Regions from separate parts of the Homo sapiens genome. Here region 2 is linked to region 1. A link means that fine-mapping ties the variant in region 1 to the expression of a gene that starts in the linked region. Tissue or cell type: tibial artery. Region 1 holds a variant in brackets; the other region holds the start of a gene. All regions are shown on one strand. Distances are from middle to middle.

What was found. PIP is the estimated chance that this variant, and not a neighbour inherited with it, causes the effect.
Region 2: REM1 starts here. The variant in region 1 is fine-mapped to the expression of REM1 in tibial artery (GTEx, PIP 0.99).

What each region holds. Positions count from the first base shown.
Region 1 is chr20:31,728,750-31,734,846 of GRCh38, reverse strand. No RefSeq gene overlaps it. Among named protein-coding and RNA genes, the nearest start is that of TPX2, 7.5 kb to the left of the region's middle. The variant T/C (reference allele first, on the strand shown) is at 3,469.
Region 2 is chr20:31,472,070-31,478,166 of GRCh38, reverse strand. REM1 (RRAD and GEM like GTPase 1) reads right to left here and starts at 2,879. Exons shown (of 5, transcript NM_014012.6): 1 at 2,801-2,879; 2 at 1,382-1,940; 3 at 257-339. The coding sequence starts at 1,721. DEFB124 (defensin beta 124) reads left to right here and starts at 3,040. Exons shown (of 3, transcript NM_001037500.2): 1 at 3,040-3,540; 2 at 5,129-5,211. The coding sequence starts at 5,154. RefSeq lists a silencer at 2,928-2,987.

The DNA of each region.
Region 1 (6,097 bases):
GCTGGAGTGCAATGGCGTGATCTCGGCTCACTGAACCTCCCCCTTCCGGGAAGTGATTCTCCTGCATCAGCCTCCTGAGTAGCTGGGATTACAGGCACCCACTATGACGCCCAGCTAATTTTTTAGTTTTTAGTAGAGACGGGGTTTCACCATGTTGGCCAGGCTGGTTTGGAACTCCTGACCACAGGTGATCTGCCCGCCTCAGCCTCCCAAAATGCAGAGATTACAGGTGTGAGCCACTGCGCTCAGCCTATTGACAACTATTAAAATGTCAAATAAGTATGCCCTATGATGTAGGACTTCCATTTCTAGGTTTCATTCCAAGAGATAACACTCATCCAGTCACACAAATGCCCAGTTGCTGCAGCATTTATTGAGCACCTGCTATGTGCCAAGTCACCATACTAAGTGTGGGGATACCACAGTAAAAAGACAGACAAAATTCCTGTCCTCGTGGAACTGTTATTCTAGGGGAGAAGACAGATGCCAGATGAGATAAATAAGTAAATGATCTAGTGTATTAGCAGGTGATAAATGCAAAACCATTTGCTCGCGAGGCCCTGAAGTGTGGATGGCAATACAAGGAGAAAGGCAGGAGCTGGATAGATGGTGGGGCAAAGGGAGGGCAGGGGTCTGCCTGGGCTGTGACTGTCCCACTTTCAGCACCCACATCACCCAACAACCAGGCATGTGCCTGCCAACAATGGAGTAGACAGGCTTGGGTCAAGGTGGGGGTAAAGGTAGTTTGCCTTATATTAGGAAGGAAGAAGCATCAGAACTATTGTTGTCTGGGGACTACTAGGCAGAAGGTAACTGACTGAATGAATAAATGAATGAATGAGGCAATGCCAGGAGGCCAGGATGTATGCAAGAGCTTCCCAATTCCTTCCAAATGAACAGGAGGTAAGCCTGGTCCAAGAGTTTCCTCTCCTATCATTTTACCTGCTTATGTTAGGCTGAGCTTCAAGTTCTCGTTCTCTGTGAATGGGAGACTATGTGGTCTGAATCACTGAAGCAGAATTTCAGGGCTGGAAAGAAGGATAGACACATCTGGTCCACTCTGTTCACAATTTCAGTTATCATCGAGGGAAGGGAACAAGAGTGGAAATAAGGAAATCAATTAGTAGTTCATTGCAATGTAGTTGTAAGAAATTGGAAACCACCTAAATTTTCACAAATCGAGGAATATTTCAATCAACTGCCTACAGAATGGAACACTAAGCAGCAGTTTAAAAAAGTTCCATGGATCTGGACTGACAGGAGAGGATCTTTGAGATATATTTTTGAGTTAAAAAAAATGAATTGCATGGCTGGGCGCGGTGGCTCATGCATGTAATCCCAGCACCTTGGGAGGCTGAGGCAGGTGGATCACCTGAGGTCAAGAGTTTGGGACCAGCCTGGCCAACATGGTGAAACCCGGTGTCTACTAAAAATACAAAATTAGCCAGGCGTGGTGGTGGGCGCCTGTAATCCCACCACTCAGGAGGCTGAGGCAGGAGAATCACTTCAACCCGGGAGGCGGAGGTTGCAGTGAGCTGAGATCGCGCCACTGCACTCCAGCCTGGGCAACAAGAGTGAAACTCCGTCTCAAAAAAATGAATTGCTGATTGACATAAATTCATTATGACATCATTATGTTTTTAAAATACTCAAAATAATGTTCCACTTTTCCCATGGGTGTGTATAAGTAACCATTAGTACTTACCACATGCTAACCACTATTAGAAGTATTTTACACATATTAACTCATATATCCTAACAATAACCCTATGAGATAGTTAATGTTACCACACCCATTTTATAGATTGTAGAAATTGAGGCTTAAAAAGATTAGACAATTTATCTGAGATCATACAGCTTTTGTGGTGACAAAATCAAGATTTGAGCCCAGGAAGGCCTACTCCAGAGACCAATCCCCTAACCATTGCCTTGGACTGCCTCTCCTATGTGGATATATATATAGAGAGAAAGTTATGGAAAAATTCATAACAAACTAACAAGAATGGGAAATTCAGAGGGGAGAAGTTAAACTGGATTTATACAGAGAAAGGATAGATAATTTGAGTCTTTAATTAAAAAAAAAAAGAATGTTAGCTGGGTGCGGTGGCTCACGCTTGTAATCCCAGCACTTTAGGAGGCTGAGGTGGGTGGATCACCTGAGGTCAGGAGTTCGAGACCAGCCTGGCCAACATGACGAAACCCCATCTCTACTAAAAATAAAAAACTTAGCCAGGTGGTGGTGGGCGCCTGTAGTTCCAGCTACTCGGGAGGCTGAGGCAGGAGAATTGCTCGAATCCGGGAGGCAGAGGTTGAGGTGAGCTGAGATTGCGCCATTGTACTCCAGCCTGGGCAACAAGAGTGAAACTCCATCTCAAAAAATAATGATAAAAATAAATAAATTCAAATCACCCAAATAATACACAGCAACACTCTTTTTTATTTATGTAATTATTTTATTTTATTTATTTTTGAGATGGAGTCTCACTCTGTCGCCCAGGCTGGTGTGCAGTGGTGCCATCTCGGCTACTGCAACCTCCGCCTCCCGAGTTAAAGCGATTCTCCTGCCTCAGCCTCCCGAGTAGCTGGGATTACAGGCATGCACCACCACGCCCGGCTAATTTTCTATTTTTAGTAGAGACGGGGTTTCTCCATGTTGGTCAGGCTGGTCTCGAACTCCCAACCTCAGGTGATCCGCCTGCCTCGGCCTCCCAAAATGCTGGGATTACAGGCATGAGCCACCACACCCAGACTTTTTTTTTTTTTTTGTAATAGTAAAACTGCAAAGGAGAGAGAAGGAGGAGCCAGTGAGGTAGAAAGTTATTTAAGCTCTCAAACTCTGTTTTGAAAAAGTGAGAGATTAACTGGGTGTGGTGGCACATGCCTATAGTCCTACCTACTCTGGATGCTGAGATGAGAGGGTTGCTTGAGCCCAGGAGGTTGAGGCTGCAGTGTGCTGTGATGATGCCACCTCACTCCAGCTTGGGTGAGAGAATGAGACCCTGTCTCGAAAAATAATAAATAATGAGCGAGAAAGAAAGAACCAGCCTCTACTGCTGCCCCTAACAAATCTGATCCTCCACTCTGTGTCTCTTAGTCCCTCCACCATCTAACTAGTGGTCACTAGGCCAGAAATCTGGACCTGCCTTCCAGCTTCATGGAGGCTTCCTACTCCATTGGCTCCGGGTGATGACTTAACTTCCAGACACCTCCAAACGAGGTGACTTCGATCACCCAAAGACACTCCTCTGGAGAAGGTTGCAGGTATAAATAATTGATGACAGCTGTCAAAAGGATCCCCAGGATCGCTTGGACCCGGGAGGTCAAGGCTGCAGTGAGCTATGATTACACTGCTGCACTCTAGCCTGGGCAACAGAGTCATACCCTGTCTCGGAAAACAAACAAAAAAAAGGTTCCCCAGAAAAGTCAGCACTGTGGCACTGTTTTTTTTTTGTTTTTTTTTTTTATTCT[T/C]CCAGTCTTCCATCCAACCAAGTGTTGGGGCTCAGAAAATGATGCTCCAAAATATGGTGCTTTGGCATGCTGGGTGCTTTGAACAAAGGAGATTGAAAGGCCTCAGAAATAAGCCTCAGAAACAAGGTCTCCCTCTGACCTTCTGCTCCCTGTCCCCATCATTCCCTTCCAAAGAGCAGGAGGGAGCAGTTGCGGAAGTTCTTTCCCTTATATGACTGAGGGAAGTTCTTCCAATTGTATTAAATGCAATTGTCTTAAACTCTCTTCCTAGAAATCTCATCAAACAACCAGGGAAGATTAGTCACCAGAGAGGAGATTAAAAGTAACCACCACATCCAGACAGGCTATTGCCTATTCTTCCAGAGACTGTTCCAAAACAACTTTTTTTTTTTTTTTGAGACGGAGTCTCGCTCTGTCGCCCAGGCTGGAGTGCAGTGGTGCAATCTTGGCTCACTGCAAGCTCCGCCTGCCGGGTTCATGCCATTCTCCTGCCTCAGCCTCCTGAGTAGCTGGGACTACAGTCACCCGCCACCACGCCCAGCTAATTTTTTGTATTTTTAGTAGGGACGGGGTTTCACTGTGTTAGCCAGGATGGTCTCGATCTCCTGACCTCGTGATCCACCTGCCTCAGCCTCTCAAAGTGCTGAGATTACAGGCATAAGTCACCGCGCCCGCCCCTTTTTTTTTTTCTTAAAGGCAGAGTCTCGCTCTGTCCACCAAGCTGGAGTACAGTGGCGCAATCTTGGCTCACTGCAATCTCCGCCTCCCAGGTTCAAGCGATTCTCCTGCCTCAGCCTCCTGAGTAGCTGGGATTATAAGCATGCACCACCACACTGGCTAATTTTTGTATTTTTAGTAGAGACAGGGTTTCACCATGTTGGCCAGGCTGGTCTTGAACTCCTGACCTCAGGTGATCTGCCCGCCTCGGCCTCCCAAAGTGCTGAGATTACAGGCGTGAGCCACCGCGCCCAGCCGCAGGGGGTTATTTTCAGTAAGCACATGTAAGATTGGTGGTAGCAGTTTGAGACCAGCCTACGCAACATAGTGAGTCCCCGTCTCTATAAAAATTAAAAAAAAAAAAATTGCTGGGTGTGGTGGTGCACACCTGCAGTCCCAGCAACTCAGGAGGCTGAAGTGGGAGGATCATTTGAGCCTGGGAGTTTGAGGCTGCAGTGAACTATGATTGTGCCACCATACTCCAGCCTGGGCAACAGAGGGAGACCCTATCTCAATTTAAAAAAAAAAAAAAAGAATGATTCGAAGACTTTTTAATGCAAATACAGATACCTCATATATCTATATCTATCCACACACGCATTTTTATATATTCATATAATGTCTGTGTGTGTTCATATGTTTTTCAAATTTCTCATTTAAAAAGTAAAGTTTTTTTTTTTTTTTTTGAGACAAAGTCTCTTCTGTCACCCAGGCTAGAGTGTAATCTTGGCTCACTGCAACCTCTGCCTCCCAGGTTCAAGTGATTCTCCTGCCTCAGCCTCCTGAGTAGCTGTGATTACAAGCGCCCGCTAGCACACCCAGCTAATTTTTTGTATTTTTAGTAAAGACAGGGTTTCACCATATTGGCCAGGCTGGTTTTGAACCCCTGACCTCAAGTGATCTGCCCACCTCGACCTTCCAAAGTGCTAGGATTACAGGCATGAGCCACCATGCCAGGCCAAAAGTAATGCTTTCTTATTTTAATATTTGGAAAATACACGGAAGGTAAGGGATTAAAAATCACCTATTGATTACAGTGTACACTCTTTATGTGATGGGCACATTAAAAGTCCAGACTTCACCAACTATATAATTCATCTACTATGTAACCCAAAACCACTTGTACCCCTAAAGCTATATGTTATATATATGAAAAAATACTGAAAATAATAAAGAATAAAGAAAAATAACTATAACGTAGCCTTTAGTGGCACTATCTCTACTATTAGCATTTTAGTATATTTCCTCTTGTCTTTTAAACATTGATTTTATTAACAGAGTAGATACAAATACATATATGCAATGTATGAAAGGTATAAAGAATAATGAGGCAAAAAAAGTCTCTGTACATATGTACAATTCAACAAGAAAACCATTTTCATTGTCTTTTCTTTCTACTTTGTTTCTTTTTTTTTTGAGACGGAGTCTTGCACTGTCGCTCAGGCTGGAGTGCAATGGCGCGATCTTGGCTCACTGCAACCTCCACCTCCCAGGTTCAAGCGACTCTCCTGCCTCAGCTTCCGGAGTAGCTGAGATTACAGGCACCCGCCACCATGCCCAGCTAATTTTTTGTATTTTTAATAGAGACGGGGGTTTCACTATGTTGGCCAGGCTGGTCTCGAACTCCTGACTTTATGATCAATCTGCCTTGGCCTCCCAAAGTGCTGGGATTACAGGTGTAAGCCACCACACCCGGCCTTGTTCCTTTTTATTTAAATTGTTTACTACTATTCTGTTTCAGACAGAGATCATTATTTTTGAAGCTTCCAATTTCATCTTGTTCCCTAGGTTAATCCAATACCCTCTCGTGTTAATGTCCAATAGCTATCATGACTTTTTTTTTTTTTTTTGAAAGAGAGTCCCTCTCTGTTGCCCAAGCTGGAGGGCAGTGGCAGGATCTCAGCTCCCTGCA
Region 2 (6,097 bases), 260 kb after region 1:
GGGGAGATCTGCAGGGGGAGAAGTACATTCTGAGATGGCTGCTAGGAGGGGATTGTGGAGTGAGAAAAGGGGTCAGGGTCATAAGGGTCTTCTGTTTGGGATTGGAAAGACTGCTTAGGAGCTGTGGGTTTTGGGGGAGGGTGCTGAGGATGGCCGTTGCTCACACCTGATCTGTAGTGTCCCCAGGAGGGGACAGGAAGGAGTCTAGTATTAGGCTCAGCACCCCTCTCCCCAAATTCTGCTTGCAGTGCCATACCAGTTTCTCGGCCTCCCAGGTGTCCACGACCACCAGTGTGGTGTCTTCTCCATCCACCGTGAGGGTCCTCTCATATACATCTTCTGCAACCGAGGGAAGAGCTGGATCTCAGGGAGGACGGGCAAGCCTGAGAGAGTGTGGTGTTCCCTGCCCCCCATTTCTGGTCATATCGCCCCCTCCACTTGTCCTCGGAAACGCTTATCACACTTGTTTGATGCCTGTCTCTCCTGGTAGGAGCCCATGTCTCCCCAGCTGCCATAGTACCTGGCACATAGTAGGTGCCAGAAAGATTTGATTGATTGAATGAAGGTGGGGTGGTGGGGTTAAAGTTGGGCTAGGAATTCTCCCAGGCCTGCTCTGTCTCTGATTTAGTGAGTGCTTCAGGCAGGTCATGTTATCCTCTCTTGACCTCAGTCTCCCTATCTGTAACACATATGTGTTCTCACTCGGAGAGAGAAGTCAAGACTAGAGAGGAGTCTGGCTAGATGTCCCTACCTTTTCTCTGCATTTAATCAACCCCCTTCCCCCACTCACCCTATGTCCTTTTGGCCAGTCCTTCAGGGGCCTACCTTCATCTCTTCTATCTTCCCTGTACCCCATCATCCTGGGGCCCCCGACACTCTCAGCTCACAGCAGTTCTTGGGAATAAAGCAACCCAGGGCCCAGAACTTGGGGTCTCGGAGTCTCCCTTCTGCAAAGGATCTTAGTTTTGCTGTAGATCATGGTGACCATGGATGGGTGTCTATGGGACTGGGAGAATCTAAGAGTCAGAGGAGTCAGGGAGGGGAGTTTCTGACCTTGGTGGAAGTCCACCATTTCTTAACATGGAATTCAGAATTGCCACCCGCATGACATGGAAATGAATCATATACTTCTCATTCATGGGAAGTTGGCAAAATTCTTGTTCTATTCAAGAATTTCCCTCCCCTTGACCATTGTGCAGGCTGTGCCCTGTACAACTTTGGAGGGCGGGGGGGCATCGTGCATGTCATAGTCTAAGTGAATGATGCCCCTTAGAGTTGAACAGTGCATGACTTGTACAACTGTTCTTGGCAGCCCTGTGTCCCTGGTGACAGGGCTTTCGCTCCTTTGGCCACATCCCAGCCCAGCCCATATGGCCCCTACCTCCCAGCTGTTCATGGAGGTCCCTCTCTTGCTTCCCTGCAAAGAGGCTGGCCAAGCTGGTCTTCCCCACTCCAGGATCTCCAAGTAGCACCACACGGTAGAGAGCCTCCCAGGAGCCTTCAGAGTCGCTGGATTCAGAAGACCAATCATCTGGGGCAGGTGAAGGTTTCTGGGTGGGAGGGTTGAGGGAGGCTGATTGGCCCAGCCGGGGATGCTGGGATTGAGTGGAAGGCACTGTGCTCAGGCGGCCAGGCTGGTGGCCCCGTGGGGACAGGGGCAGTGGGGTGCTGGCTCGCCGGTGCAGAGGGGTCTTTGCTTCCTGCTCGGTGTTGAGTGTCATCTTTGGTAGGGGGGGGTTTGCTTCTTCCTTCTTTCCTTCTGAAAGAAGGGGGAATTGGCTGTCAGCCAATTGCTTTGAGCTGCTTCTTTCTATAGTGTCCTGATGAGCTGCTGTATGGCTTCTTCCAGATCCCCCTCTTGTTCAGATGGGAGTAGGAGGTGCCTCAGCTTCTTGGGGCAGAAAGTCCCTAGGTTTTCTGGCCTCAGGCTCTGCATAAACCTGGATCCGGATGGAAGGAGTGAGTGTGCAGGCTGTGAACACACAGACATGCACACCCAGAGGCCATTCCCTTGTCTTAAGGATGATCTACTCCTGATGACAGACAGGCAGGTGGAGGGGCAGTAGTAAGGTGGGATGTCCTCACATGCACACTCCCCATTCCGTGTACACGGACCTGCCCTTGCCACAGAACATGAGGCCCTGGCTCTGAAAGACATCTGAATTGTCCCCCTCCTCCCCTTCCCCACCGCTCTCTTTCACAGCTTCTGGGTTGGGAGTGCAGTTTCAGGTCTCCCCCAAGGGTAGGGGCTACTTAACTTTCGATGCCCAATTTCACGGGGTCTGAGGAGGAAGAGGCAGGAGGGCGGGTTGGCACTCCAGAAGCGCGAGGGGGGTATGGGGGTAACCCGACTGTAACCCGAGTGCCCTAGTGCCATGGGAACCGCGTGTCTGACCCGCCCCCTGTGTGAAAAATTCAGGAGCGGCTGGCGCTACGGCCTCCAACTGCTTTTGGGGACGGGAGCTGCCGCCGGTCAGGCCCCAGGTTAGGTGACAGGACAGGGTCCTGGCAGGGGACGGGGAGGGCAGACCACAGGGCCCGGGAACGCTGTGCCATTCCTGGAGTCTGGGTCCGAGCTTTCTCAGCCGGCATCCCGGGTGTGAATCCCCCATCCTGGGGTTGGAGGGGTCTTTGTCCAGGGCTATCCAGCCCTCCGGGTCCCAGGTCTGAAGACCCTCACCCTAGGGACGCGGTTTCGAAGCCCCCCTATTCCTGCCAACGCTGCCGAATCCCCCTTCAATCGCCTGGCGAACTCTGCTCCAACTTGAGCAAGTTGGCGGCGCGTAGCGCAGGGCTTTACCTCGGCGTGGGAGGGGTCCAGGGTCCCTCGCAGCTCCAGCGGCTGGATGCTCCAGGCTGTACCACCCGCCTCAGTGAGCAGCCCCTCAGGCCAGTTCCCCTCCCCTCGCCGCCTCGGCCGGGGGAGGAGCCGCGACCCCGCCCCATCCAGCCCCGCCCCATTAGGGCAGCCCCGGGGTCCCCGCCCCAAGGCCCTGGCCGCTCAGTGACTTTTCTGAAAGTGCAGAGCTCAGCTGACCCGCTTCTGCCAGCCCTACGCACCGGGTGAGGGTGGCAGACGAGAAAGGAAGGATGGGGGCTCTGGATTCCTGGGTCTGGAGCTCCATCTGCGTCCACATCTGTCCACTCCATCAAGGGGATGCACTAACATATTAGCCCCCAGAAAAACCACTTGGGGAACTTGCTAAATTTTCAGGTCCCGCCTTCCAAGAGAGGCGGATTCCACGGTGCTGGGGGAGGGGTTCGGGAATCTGCGTTTTAAACAAGTGCCCCAAGTGATCCTGATGCAGGCGGTTCACTGACCTCACTTTAAGAAACTCTGCTCTGGATGAAGAATTAATTTTGGGAGGTGGCTTGGAGGAAGAGAGAGCTCAGGAAGTCTGCACTGAAGAATTATGAAAATCTTATTTTGGCATCATTCATTCATTCACCAACTGAGGCTTAGCTGGGCCTGGGCCTGAGGTCTCTGCCACTCTGTCTACTGTTTCTATTACTGATGGCTGAAAAAAAAAATGCTCCCAGGTATGGAGGAGGAGGAAAGAGATTGCTGGTGACGTCGGCCATCCAAGGGGCCAGGATCCAGACTCTTTGACTGGGCTGCCTCCCTTTAGGTCTTGAGAAATTGGGGTGTGTCTGTGTGTGGAGCCCATGGAGACCAGGCTGCACCTGTGGGTGGGGCTCATTGTCATGGCTGAGGGGATTCAGGTGTTCAGCTTGGAATAACTCCCACAGCAGCTGAACAGACTGGCTCAGCCCCCACAGGTCTTGGAGCTGATACAGAACCCCCTCGTGCCTGGCTTCCTTCCGTGGCTTGGCCCTCTAAGCTTACCTTTCTAACTTGCAAGATGGGCCATGAGTGGTGCAGCACCCTTCATTGTCTGGGAGTGAGGTGACTTGGCTTTTCCATCTCTGCAGCACAATTGCTGTGTGACCTTAGGCAAGTCAACTTCCCTCTTTGGGTTTCAGTTTCTTTATTTAAAACTATAATATGAACAGCTTACACTCTTGCTAAAAAACTTTTGGTTGTCTATAATACAAAAGTCTGAACTTGGCATTCAAGCCCCAACCTATTCTCTGCAGAATCATTTCAACCTCTCCTCCCAGGAAAACCCTTGCTTGGCTCATGCCCTACTCTTCTAGGCACATTCTATTCTTTCTGCCCGGGATACCTTTTCCCCTACTCATCTTTCATGATGCAACTTAGATTCCTGTGTACCAGACACTGTTCTAAGCTCTGCACGGATATTATCTCAGGGGTTCTCAAACTTTGGCGGTGTGTTAGAATCACTTGGAGGGCTTGTTAAGCCACATTTTGCCGGGACCCACCCATACTCTCATCTATGACTAGTGATCTAACAAATGACCAGAGAGCTAACTTGTGACCAGTGTTAGTGAATCTGTGGTCTAACTTGTAACCAGTGGTTTAACCTGTGACCCATGGGCTGCTCTGTGACCTGTGGCCTTCTTCTGCTTAGGAAGAGGTGAATTCAGTAGGTTTGGGGTAGGGCTAAAGAACTGGTGTTTCTAACAAGTCCCAGGTGTTGCTGCTGCTTGCTGGGGGAACCATAGTATAGGAGCCACTGTATTACTTCATTTAGTCCCCTAAATGAGATGGGTAGCTATTACTCTCTATGACATGGGTACTATTACTCTTCCCATTTTAGAGTAGGCCTGCATACATGCTGTTCACTTGGCCTTGTAAGGGATGCTTGTCATCATTTCATAGACAACAGCCTGAGGCTCAGAGAGGTTAAGTGACTTGTCTGATGTCTCACAGCAGTTAGGGGGAGATGCGGGGGATTGAACTAGGTCTCTCTTAAGCCAAGATTTTTTCCACTCTCTTAGGTGGGGAAGATGTCTAGTTTCTGACCCTAGACACTGCCTCAGAAAATTCTACCTCCCCTTCCGAGCTCAACAGGCTCCGGAGGGTGTGGCTGACCAGTTCCCACGTAGCTGGCTGAAATCCCAAGCAGCCTGGGGACCACATGGCCTCATACTCCCACTTAGGCCTGCTGCCCACAGCACTGCCTTCATCTGCAGCTCAATAAAGCCTGGGCTGGAAGCAGCGAGGCTCAGCCTGCTCGGGTCTTTCCTCTTGTGCTCTCTCCAGCAGCCTCCCCAGGAGCCCCGTGGCCATGACACAGCTGCTTCTGTTCCTTGTGGCTCTCCTGGTTCTGGGTCATGTGCCATCAGGTAACAACATCGTGTGCATGTGTGTGTGTGTGTGTGTGCACATGTGTGCTTGTAAAAATGAGGACTAGACTCTCAGGTCCTGGAGGACAGAGGGGCCTCTATCAGCATTTAAGTTCTGGCCCCACCACTGACTTGGTGGGCAACTTAGAGCAAGTTGCTAAATCAGCCTGTACCTCAGTTTCCTAATCTATAAAATGGGATTCTCTCAATAAATATTCATTTATGTTATGATGGTTGTGAAATAATAACAGTGAAAGACATGTAGCAGTGAAAGAAAAGAAGGTCCTTGCTTTCATGCAGCTGACACTTTAGTTGGTGGAGATAGAAAATAAGTGGATAAACATATGTTGGGTGGTGATAAGTGCTGAGAAGAGGAAAGGCAAGGGAAGGGGTTAGAGTGGTGTGTGCATGGAGGGGGTGGGGATGGGAAGGCTGATGAGGATGGACAGAGAAGGTCTCTGATAAGATTTGTTTCTTTTGCCTCTCCCCTCTCCCCTCTCCCCTCTCCCCTCTCCCTTCTCCCCTCTCCCCTCTCCCTCTCGGTCTCCCTCTCCCTCTCTTTCCACTGTCTCCCTCTGATGCCGAGCCGAAGCTGGACTGTACTGCTGCCATCTCGGCTCACTGCAACCTCCCCGCCTGATTCTCCTGCCTCAGCCTGCCCAGTGCCTGCGATTGCAGGCGCGCGCCACCACGCCTGACTGGTTTTCGTACTTTTTTGGTGGAGATGGGGTTTCGCTGTGTTGGCCGGGCTGGTCTCCAGCTCCTAACCGCGAGTGATCCGCCAGCCTCGGCCTCCCGAGGTGCCGGGATTGCAGACGGAGTCTGGTTCACTCAGTGCTCAATGGTGCCCAGGCTGGAGTGCAGTGGCGTGATCTCAGCTCGCTAC